2 linked regions of the Homo sapiens genome follow. The protein of the gene in region 2 interacts with the protein of the main gene of each other region in a pairwise test. Each region holds a gene or a part of one and is shown on either strand. Other genes may lie near its edges.

Region 1 (2,720 bases), on a different chromosome or scaffold from region 2:
CTTTAAGTTTTTTATATGTCGTACCTTATTTGAGCCTCAGAATGACCCTATGAGGCAGGTAATAGTGCTGTTCTCATCCCCATTTTGCAGACAAGAGGAAGTCAAGAACAAGAGAGGTTAAACAACTTGCCCAAGGTCACGCTTAGTAAGTGACAGAGCAGAATTTGGACCCAGGCAGCTGAACGTTCCTAGCCACAATTCTATCCCAGATCCAAGAAACTGGGAGTCAGGAGGCCTGTTTTTTGCCTGATTCTTATGTGAAATTGGGTTCTGGCCTTTCTTTTTCTTGGCTAGGTTCTTCCCAGGGTTGTTTTAGCATTCTGAGAGGCTAACTAGCTACCCCTTTCTTCTCTGGCCCAGGTGAAAATCTGGTTCCAGAACCGCCGTTCCAAGTTCAAGAAACTCTACAAGAACGGGGAGGTGCCGCTGGAGCACAGTCCCAATAACAGTGATTCCATGGCCTGCAACTCACCACCATCACCCGCCCTCTGGGACACCTCTTCCCACTCCACTCCGGCCCCTGCCCGCAGTCAGCTGCCCCCGCCGCTCCCATACAGTGCCTCCCCCAGCTACCTGGACGACCCCACCAACTCCTGGTATCACGCACAGAACCTGAGTGGACCCCACTTACAGCAGCAGCCGCCTCAGCCAGCCACCCTGCACCATGCCTCTCCCGGGCCCCCGCCCAACCCTGGGGCTGTGTACTGAGCACCCATCTGGCCTGCACCCTTGACAAAGGACCCCAGGACCAGGCAGAAGGCGCCTCCGTCCTAGCCACTCAGGAATCATCGAGGAGCACAGGGAAAAGGAACTCCCTTTCCCCCTCCCTTGCCCCTTCCTCCAGGGACCCAAGCGCTTCCAGATGACAATTGCATGGACCAAGGATGCCCCCTGAACCTCCCTCCCTCTGCCTAGACACTGGGGTACCCCTCCAGATGTGGGGACATTCCACCCCAGTGGGGACAGCCATTCCCCTACCTGCTCCAGGAGCCTGGATTGGCTTTAAATGGCTCATCATCTTCCAGCTTCTTAAACTTAGTGCCTGTTCCCAGACTGGAGACCTTGGGATGGGGGAGAGTGTGGAGGGTTTGCGGGTCCTGCCTGTGCTGGGGCACCTGGCACCGTGGATCTTAAAACTTGCCAGGCCTAGTTCCTCCTGAGCCTCTGGTGGTCTCCCCCTGCTCGAGCGGCCCCTCGGCCAATAAGACAGTGGACATCATGACGAGGACTCCGGGTGGGGACCTGAACTGGTCACCGCCCTGCACTTCTAGCCCTCATTTAAGATTTGAGGGTGAAACCAAAGAAAACCCCCTAAGTGAGGGAATCTTTTAATATTTGTGGCTTTAGAGGAAAGAACTAAAGGAGCCATCTCTCTCCCCTCTCCTCCGTTCCGAGAGGAGGGGTGGGTCTCAGACGTTTTTCCTATGGACTTATTTCTTCCATGTCCAGGACTTTGCACAACTTTGGTTTTAAAAGCTGTTGAAAAATAGGAAAACAAAGGGCATTGTTCACAGATAGGGCCAAGTCTCCCCTTGCAAGGGTGCCTCTGTTCTGTCCCTGCCCCCACCTCACCTTCTCTACTCCTCCAGTAAGTTGGCAGTTTTGGTGCCAAACCCCAAATCTCCAAAGAGACATACCAGGCAAGACAAACCCCCAAACACCTCCTTTCCGGTGGCCTTGGAAACAGATTGCTCCGAGCTGGAGAATGTCGGGTGAGGTGTATGGGAGAGGAGGGGAGAGTTAGAACTTGTGCCTTTGGGAGTAAGGGGTAACTGCCTGGAGGGCTGGTGGCACTGCCCCTCCCTGACCCAGACATCCCACCAAAGCTAACTTTCCCCCACCCCTGATGCAGTAAAACATTGAAAAAAAAAAAAAAGGAGAGGTAGAAGACTGTAGCTATATATATAAATATATAGTAAGTTTTTTTTTTTTAAGAGCAACAGAGAGAAGCAGCCTCCTCCCTGCTGCGGTTTCCTATTTATGTGGCCATGTTCCTCCTGGACGGATCTCCCTGTGTGTTTCAAGCTGAGAGATGTGGGCTCCGGCTGGATTTGGGTTTTGTGGGAGGTGCAGGGGCCAAGAGAGACGTGGTAGGTCTCCAAGAGTCCCACCCGGGGGGGAAGAAGCAAAGCCATCTCCCACCCCCTCCCAGCCTTCTCATTTCTGCTTTCTTACTGGACTCATCTTTATATATAATGTTAATAAAAAAGACGAAAATAACCACTGAGCTCTTTGAACTGGAGGCTGGTGGCAGCTCTTGTGGGGAGGGTCTGAGAGTTGGGGAAGGTGTCCAGTGAGGAGGCACTTCTGCGCTCTGAGGGAGACGGGGCCCCTAGGAAACCACTACTAAGGTGCTGGGCTGGGCCTGGCCCCTGGTGGCAGGTGCTCCTGAAACCATGGCTGTCCCCAATCTGGGCAGGTCTTTGGGGGAGGCTCCCAGCAGCAGCTTCCCTGACTCCACTGCTTGGCAGCTTGGTGCTCAGAATCAGACAGCTCCCTCTGCACCGCCGCCGGGTCACCTCAGGGCTGGTCTTTGATCTGGAGCTCACATGCAGACATGCTTGCACATGTGTGTAACCCCCTGCCTCCATGCCCAGGCACTCCTGGCCCCTCACCCTCCTGTCTGTCCCTTTCAGCTTGGGGTGAGGGTGGGGCCTCAGTCAGGGGGACACGACTGCTCCCTCAGTGGGGAGGGACCTAGCACTGTGATCCAGGCCTGG
Region 2 (5,868 bases):
ATCCTGCTGGTACACGGAAATCTACAAGTACTGCTCCTGGCAGGCTTTCTAATGCACTGCGCAAGTGTATGAGCATCATTTCATATAACAAAGTTATGTTGCGAATTCAATATTCACAAAGAAGAAAACAGATGCAAACACCAAAAATTACACACAAAAACTAAAGCTGACATATCAATTCTCTCAAGTTAAACAAACTAAAAACTGGTCTGGAAACCCAGAACCACTTGAGGTTGGCATTTCATCTCATGAAAACCAAACCTTCAGCCATTCTAAGCAAATGAGCTCAGCCAGAAGACCTTAAATTTAGAGATGATTCCTATTTCTCACCTCCACAGCCCACAATGTGGTCTGAGTTGTGAATATAATTTTTATGTTTATTCACTCTGTAACACCAGTAGTGTAGCAGCAACTCAGAAAAAAAAAAAAAACCTAATGAGGCCAGGCGTGGTGGTTCACGCCTGTAATTCCAGCACTTTGGGAGGCCGAGGCAGGCAGATCACTTGAGGTCAGGAGTTCGAAACCAGCCTGGCCAACATGGTGAAACCACATCTCTACTAAAAATAAAACAATTAGCCAGGCGTGGTGGTGGTGGGCACCTGTAATCCCAGCTACTCGGGATGCTGAGGCAGGAGAATTGCTTAAACTTGGGAGGCAGACGTTGCAGTGAGCTGAGCACTCCAGCCTGGGCGACAGAGCCAGACTCCATCTCAAAAAAACAAACAAACAAACAAAAAACACCAATGAGAAATGCAAAAAAACAAAACACTTAATAACCATGATAGATGAAATATGTCTCAAAAACAAAAACAGCAGGTCACAGTGGCTCACGCCGGTAATCCCACCACTTTGGGAGACCAAGGTGGGCGGATCACCTGAGGTCAGGAGTTCGAGACCAGCCTGGCCAACATGGCAAAACCCCGTCTCTACTAAAAATACAAAAATTAGCCGGGTGCAGTGGCAGGCGCCTGTAATCCCAGCAACTCGGGAGGCTGAGGCAGGAGAATTGCTTGAACCCAGGAGGCGGAGGTTGCAGTGAGCTGAGATCACGCCACTACACTCTAGCCTAGGCGACAGAGTGAGACTCTGCCTCAAAAAACAAACAAACAAATAACCAGATTTAAAGATTTAAAGCACCCTAGGACTTTTATCACAACTCAATTCCAGTACAATCTCACGTTGATGTCTTTGAAATTCTGAACCATTTCTGCAGCAAAACGCCTAATTCTCCAGAGCCCTGAGGGCATCCGTCAATGAAATCAGCTGATTTATAAACAGAATTCAGTGATTATGAAAACAATGCAGTCATAAAACGCTTAAAAAGCATAGCATTGTTCCAAGGTTTCCTTGTGGACCTGCAAACAGGTACTGTCATCTAGTTCCGAAACAAGCGCATTTTTTCAGCTTTAAAAACAACACGCAAAATACAATAGATCCAGTATGTGCATGGTTCCCTGTTATTGCATATTCTTTCTTCCCTAAGTCAAATCACTAATACCTGTACCTCTGGAACGATGTCCAGTCCTTAAGCTGGTGGATCTCAAAGTTACTTAACGCACATACATGTGCGTGCAAACGCACACATACCTTAGTAGCTGAAGTCAGAGGAAAGGGGAGTACAACTGTGTCCTACCTGCAGGCAGGGACGTTGGTATCACCCCCTCTTCCAGCCTTTGGGGACCTACATCATAAATGTTTCTTTCATCATATATCCTTTTCAGCAAAAAAGTTTTCAGAAGGTGCTCCTAACTCATGTAATTTATTAAATATATAAAATACTCAAGTAACATGCATTTCATGGACAAGAAATATATTTTTTACAAGTATTAGAGATTTTCTTAATGGACATTTTCATAATTTCTTCCTGCATCCCAATAAATCTTGCTGTGCACCTGCCAGAGGGCATGAAACTCACTAAGACCCTTTTGGGAATTAAAATCTGAAACAAGTCATTTCTGTCCCCTGTCCTTCCCCCAAATTTAGAGACTACTGGCTTAAAGGAATTACACTCAGAGTCCCATAAAATTTAACAGAGCATCCCGTGACATGTAATATCAACAAGTATCTCTCCTTGCTCTCATCTGGTCTACAATAATTTCTGTCATGTACTGGACAGGGAAGATTATTCATTCTTATTTTCACGAACTTATGAGCTGAGTGCATCTCAAAGGTTAGGCTTTTTGAAGTATCCTAAGACAGATCCCTGGAAATGGCTGAAGTTGACATAGAACCACTGTGTCTTGAAAATGCAAGCTGAATCTGGTATTTTCTTCATAATCAAATTGGGAATTAAACCAAACCCCCTTCAAAGGTGGGGGACAGAACTGTCCCAAATGAGAACCATTAGTTGGCTGCAACATTCCAGAGCTCAACGTTGAAAACACTGTTCCAATAAGAAAGCATCTTTTCTACCTTCATTTCTAAAGCTTCCCTTTCTCCTGAACCCACCGCCTATCATGCCCCATCTCAATCTCTCTGATCCCATCGGACAAGAACAAACCTAGACAAGAAAAGGAAACAGTACCCGACTTCCTCTGAACAGGTCCTCCAGACTCTCCTGCTACTGTCAGAAGTTGGCAATTGCTGTTTTCAAGTTTATAATTTTGAATTCTTGAGTTTTTATCAACATGGAGCTGGCATTACAGTTGTGTACGATTCAAATGCTTGATAAGATTCTGTTGAAAAAAGAACTGAAGGCAAGGACACAAGTTTATTCTGTTCCCCAAATGAACCAAATGGCAGGGACGTCAATTTCCTATTCAGGGATATCAATTCTCTACGCTTTCGGGAAATACAATCTGAAACTGTGAAGCCACCTGGACTTTTATAGCACCTGGGAATTACCTTTGCACATTGGCACTACCGATTTTTACATGGCAGACTTTGGCGACAGTTCTCCACTCAACTTCATTTCTCATCTTCACATAGATGACAAGGTAACAGTGACAACTAAAGGAGCACAAGCATCCAGGCTGACAATTACCCAATTACCCACAGTGCACCAGAAACTGAAATCACGACTCAGTCCTGCTGAATTTTCCTCCAGTTCTTAAAATTATTGTTTTTTTTTTTGAGACGGAGTCTTGCTCTGTCACCCAGGCTGGAGTGCAGTGGCGCAATCTTGGCTCACTGCAAGCTCCACCTCCATGGTTCACGCCATTCTCCTGTCTCAGCCTCCCAAGGAGCTGGGACTATAGGCGCCCACCACCATGCCTGGCTAATTTTTTGTATTTTTAGTAGAGACGGGGTTTCACCGTGTTAGCTAGAATGGTCTCGATCTCCTGACCTCGTGATCTGCCCCCCTCAGCCTCCCAAAGTGCTGGGGGGCATGAGCCACCACACCTGGCCTCTTAAAATTATTTTATATGGTCTTGCCATATTAAAGTATATGTTGGCCAGGAACAGTAGCTCACAACTGTAATCGCAGCACTTTGGGAGGCCGATGCAGGAAGATTGCTTGAGTCCAGGTGCTCAAGACCAGCCTAGGCAACACAGCAAGACCCAATCTCTAGAAAAAAATTGAAAATTAAAAAAAAAAAAAAAAAGAAAGAAAAAAAAAAAGCTGGACATGCTGACTTGTGCCTGTCGGCCCAGCTACTTGGGAGGCTGAGGCAGAAGGATCACTTGAGCCCAGAAAGCCAAGGCTGCAGTGAGCTATGATCAGGGCAACAGAGCAAGACCCCATCTCTAAAAATACATAAATAAAGTATTTGTTATTATTGATTTAAGGAATAAAATGGCACCATGTACAATAAGCTTCTTTTTGTCCAAATTCCCTTCTATCAGGAAATTCAGACAAGCAAAAATGCTCGCAGCACTGAACAATACTGCACATTCACATGGACTCTAAATCCTAACAACAGGCAGGTCCCTAATTGGAAAGAGTCAAGCCTAAAGGGGACACATGCCCTTCTCTTCTTGCTCCGACATGATGGTGCTGGGGATGCAGTTTCAACAGACCCGAAGGAAGGTTTCAGCGTCTTGGAGAGCTGGCCGGGAAGGTTACCGGGCAGGAGAGAGCCTCACCTCCTCCCTACTCCCATATTCTAGCCTGGGCAGGTGTTCCAGAAAGGAAAGAGCCCTGTGCAGGCTATCTGGGGTCATAATCGGTTCCAGGCTCAAGGGAAACAGGCAGAAAAAACTCTCATGTTTTCTTTAAAGCATTCCGGCTACATCCACCACGATAGGAAAAATGACAAGAATTCAAGGCAGACACCCAGGTCAAGAATAAACACTGTGAGTTTTGCCGTGAGCATTGTTTGTGCTTCTTTCACAGGGTCTCCTGGGGCTGGAGAACTGCCGCACTCCCCGGAATCACTCAGAGGCGCCCAGCAGCACAAAGCGCCTTCTGACTCGCTGTGGGTTTCTGAACTAAAATGCGCAACTAACTTATCAATGTTTACCAAAATATCGCTTATTTTAATCATGGGAAAACTGATACTCTAGGCACCGGACATAAACAACTGTCACTTGATCCCAATGTTTAGTTAACATAAAACCGTCATCCTTAACCAGTCTGAAAAAAACATGGCCTCCCAGACCTTGAAGCAGGGTCCATCTTCCAAACCAAATCTTCACACCTGGGAGGGAGGAAAAGGCTTGAGGCCACTCATCCAGCCCTTTAACTCTACACGGTAGGACATGCACAGGTTCTGTGACTTCACACAACCAGGTAGACCACCTCAGGCAGGACAAAAGTCACCAAAATGCCAGGACAAGGATTATATTAGAAAACATGCCACGTCATGAGATCACAGAAAGCGACATATGGCCCAGAGTAAAACACAGGTTAGCAGCTCCATAGAAACACAGATGTAGGAATTCATTTTTTTATTTCTACAACAAAGGCAAAAACAACTTGATATTTTTAGCCTATTTTATATTTACGTGATTAACCCATTGGGAAAACGGCAAAGGTCCTTAATGAACATGTATCCTGTTTTTAAACTAAAGCCATGACTATAACCTTCTGATACATTTCACATATGAAGTACCTTTTGGTAGGACTGTGCAATAAAGGTGAGGGTAACATCCTCTAAAAGGACATCAGAGGTCGGGCATGGTTGCTCACACCTGTAATTCCAGTAGTTTGGGAGGCCGAGGCGAGTGGATCATCTGAAGTCAGGAGTTCGAGACCAGCCTGACCAACATGGTGAAATGCCATCTCTACTAAAAATACAAAATTAGCCGGGCATGGTGGTGCATGCCTGTAATCCCAGCTACTCGGGAGGCTGAGGCAGGAGAATTGCTTGATCCCGGGAAGCGGAGGTTGCAGTGAGGAGAGATCATGCCACTGCACTCCAACCTGGGAAACACCAATGAAATTCTGTCTCAAAAAAACAAAAACAAAAACACGACATTAGAAAATGTCCCATCTGAAACAATGAGGCATCAAGAACTAACTGGCATAGAACAAAGAGGAAATAAATAGGCCGAGCGTGCTGGCTTACGCCTGTAATCCCAGCACTTTGGGAGGCTAAGCAGGTGGATCACCTGAGGTCAGGAGTTTGAGACCAGCTTGACCAACATGGTGAAACCCATCTCTACTAAAAATACAAAAAAATTAGCCAGGTGTGGTGGCACATGCCTCTAGTCCCAGCTTCTCCGGAGGCTGAGGAGGAGAATCGCTTGAACTTGCGGGCGGAGATCGCGCCACCGCACTCTACCCTGGGCGACATAGTGAGACTCCGTCTCAAAATAAAAGAAAAAAGAGCAAATAACTAAAAGAGTATAATTGGATTGTTTGTAACACAAAGAATAAGTGCTTGAGGGAATGGATACCCCCATTCTCCATGATGTGATTATACACTGCACGACTATATCAAAATATCTAATGCACCCCATAAATATATACACCTACGTATCCAG

Evidence for each region. The genes of interacting proteins can lie anywhere in the genome.
Region 1: the proteins of TBL1X (region 2) and DLX3 interact in a two-hybrid assay, tested with the Homo sapiens proteins (one large-scale study listed by BioGRID and IntAct).

The regions. Positions count from the first base shown.
Region 1 is NC_000017.11:49,989,505-49,992,224, reverse strand, and holds the end of DLX3 (homeobox protein DLX-3), read left to right. Parts: intron 1-360; coding exon 361-708; 3' UTR 709-2,220; downstream 2,221-2,720. UniProt on the Homo sapiens protein: Transcriptional activator. Activates transcription of GNRHR, via binding to the downstream activin regulatory element (DARE) in the gene promoter.
Region 2 is NC_000023.11:9,470,117-9,475,984, reverse strand, and holds part of TBL1X (F-box-like/WD repeat-containing protein TBL1X), read right to left. Parts: intron 1-5,868. UniProt on the Homo sapiens protein: F-box-like protein involved in the recruitment of the ubiquitin/19S proteasome complex to nuclear receptor-regulated transcription units. Plays an essential role in transcription activation mediated by nuclear receptors.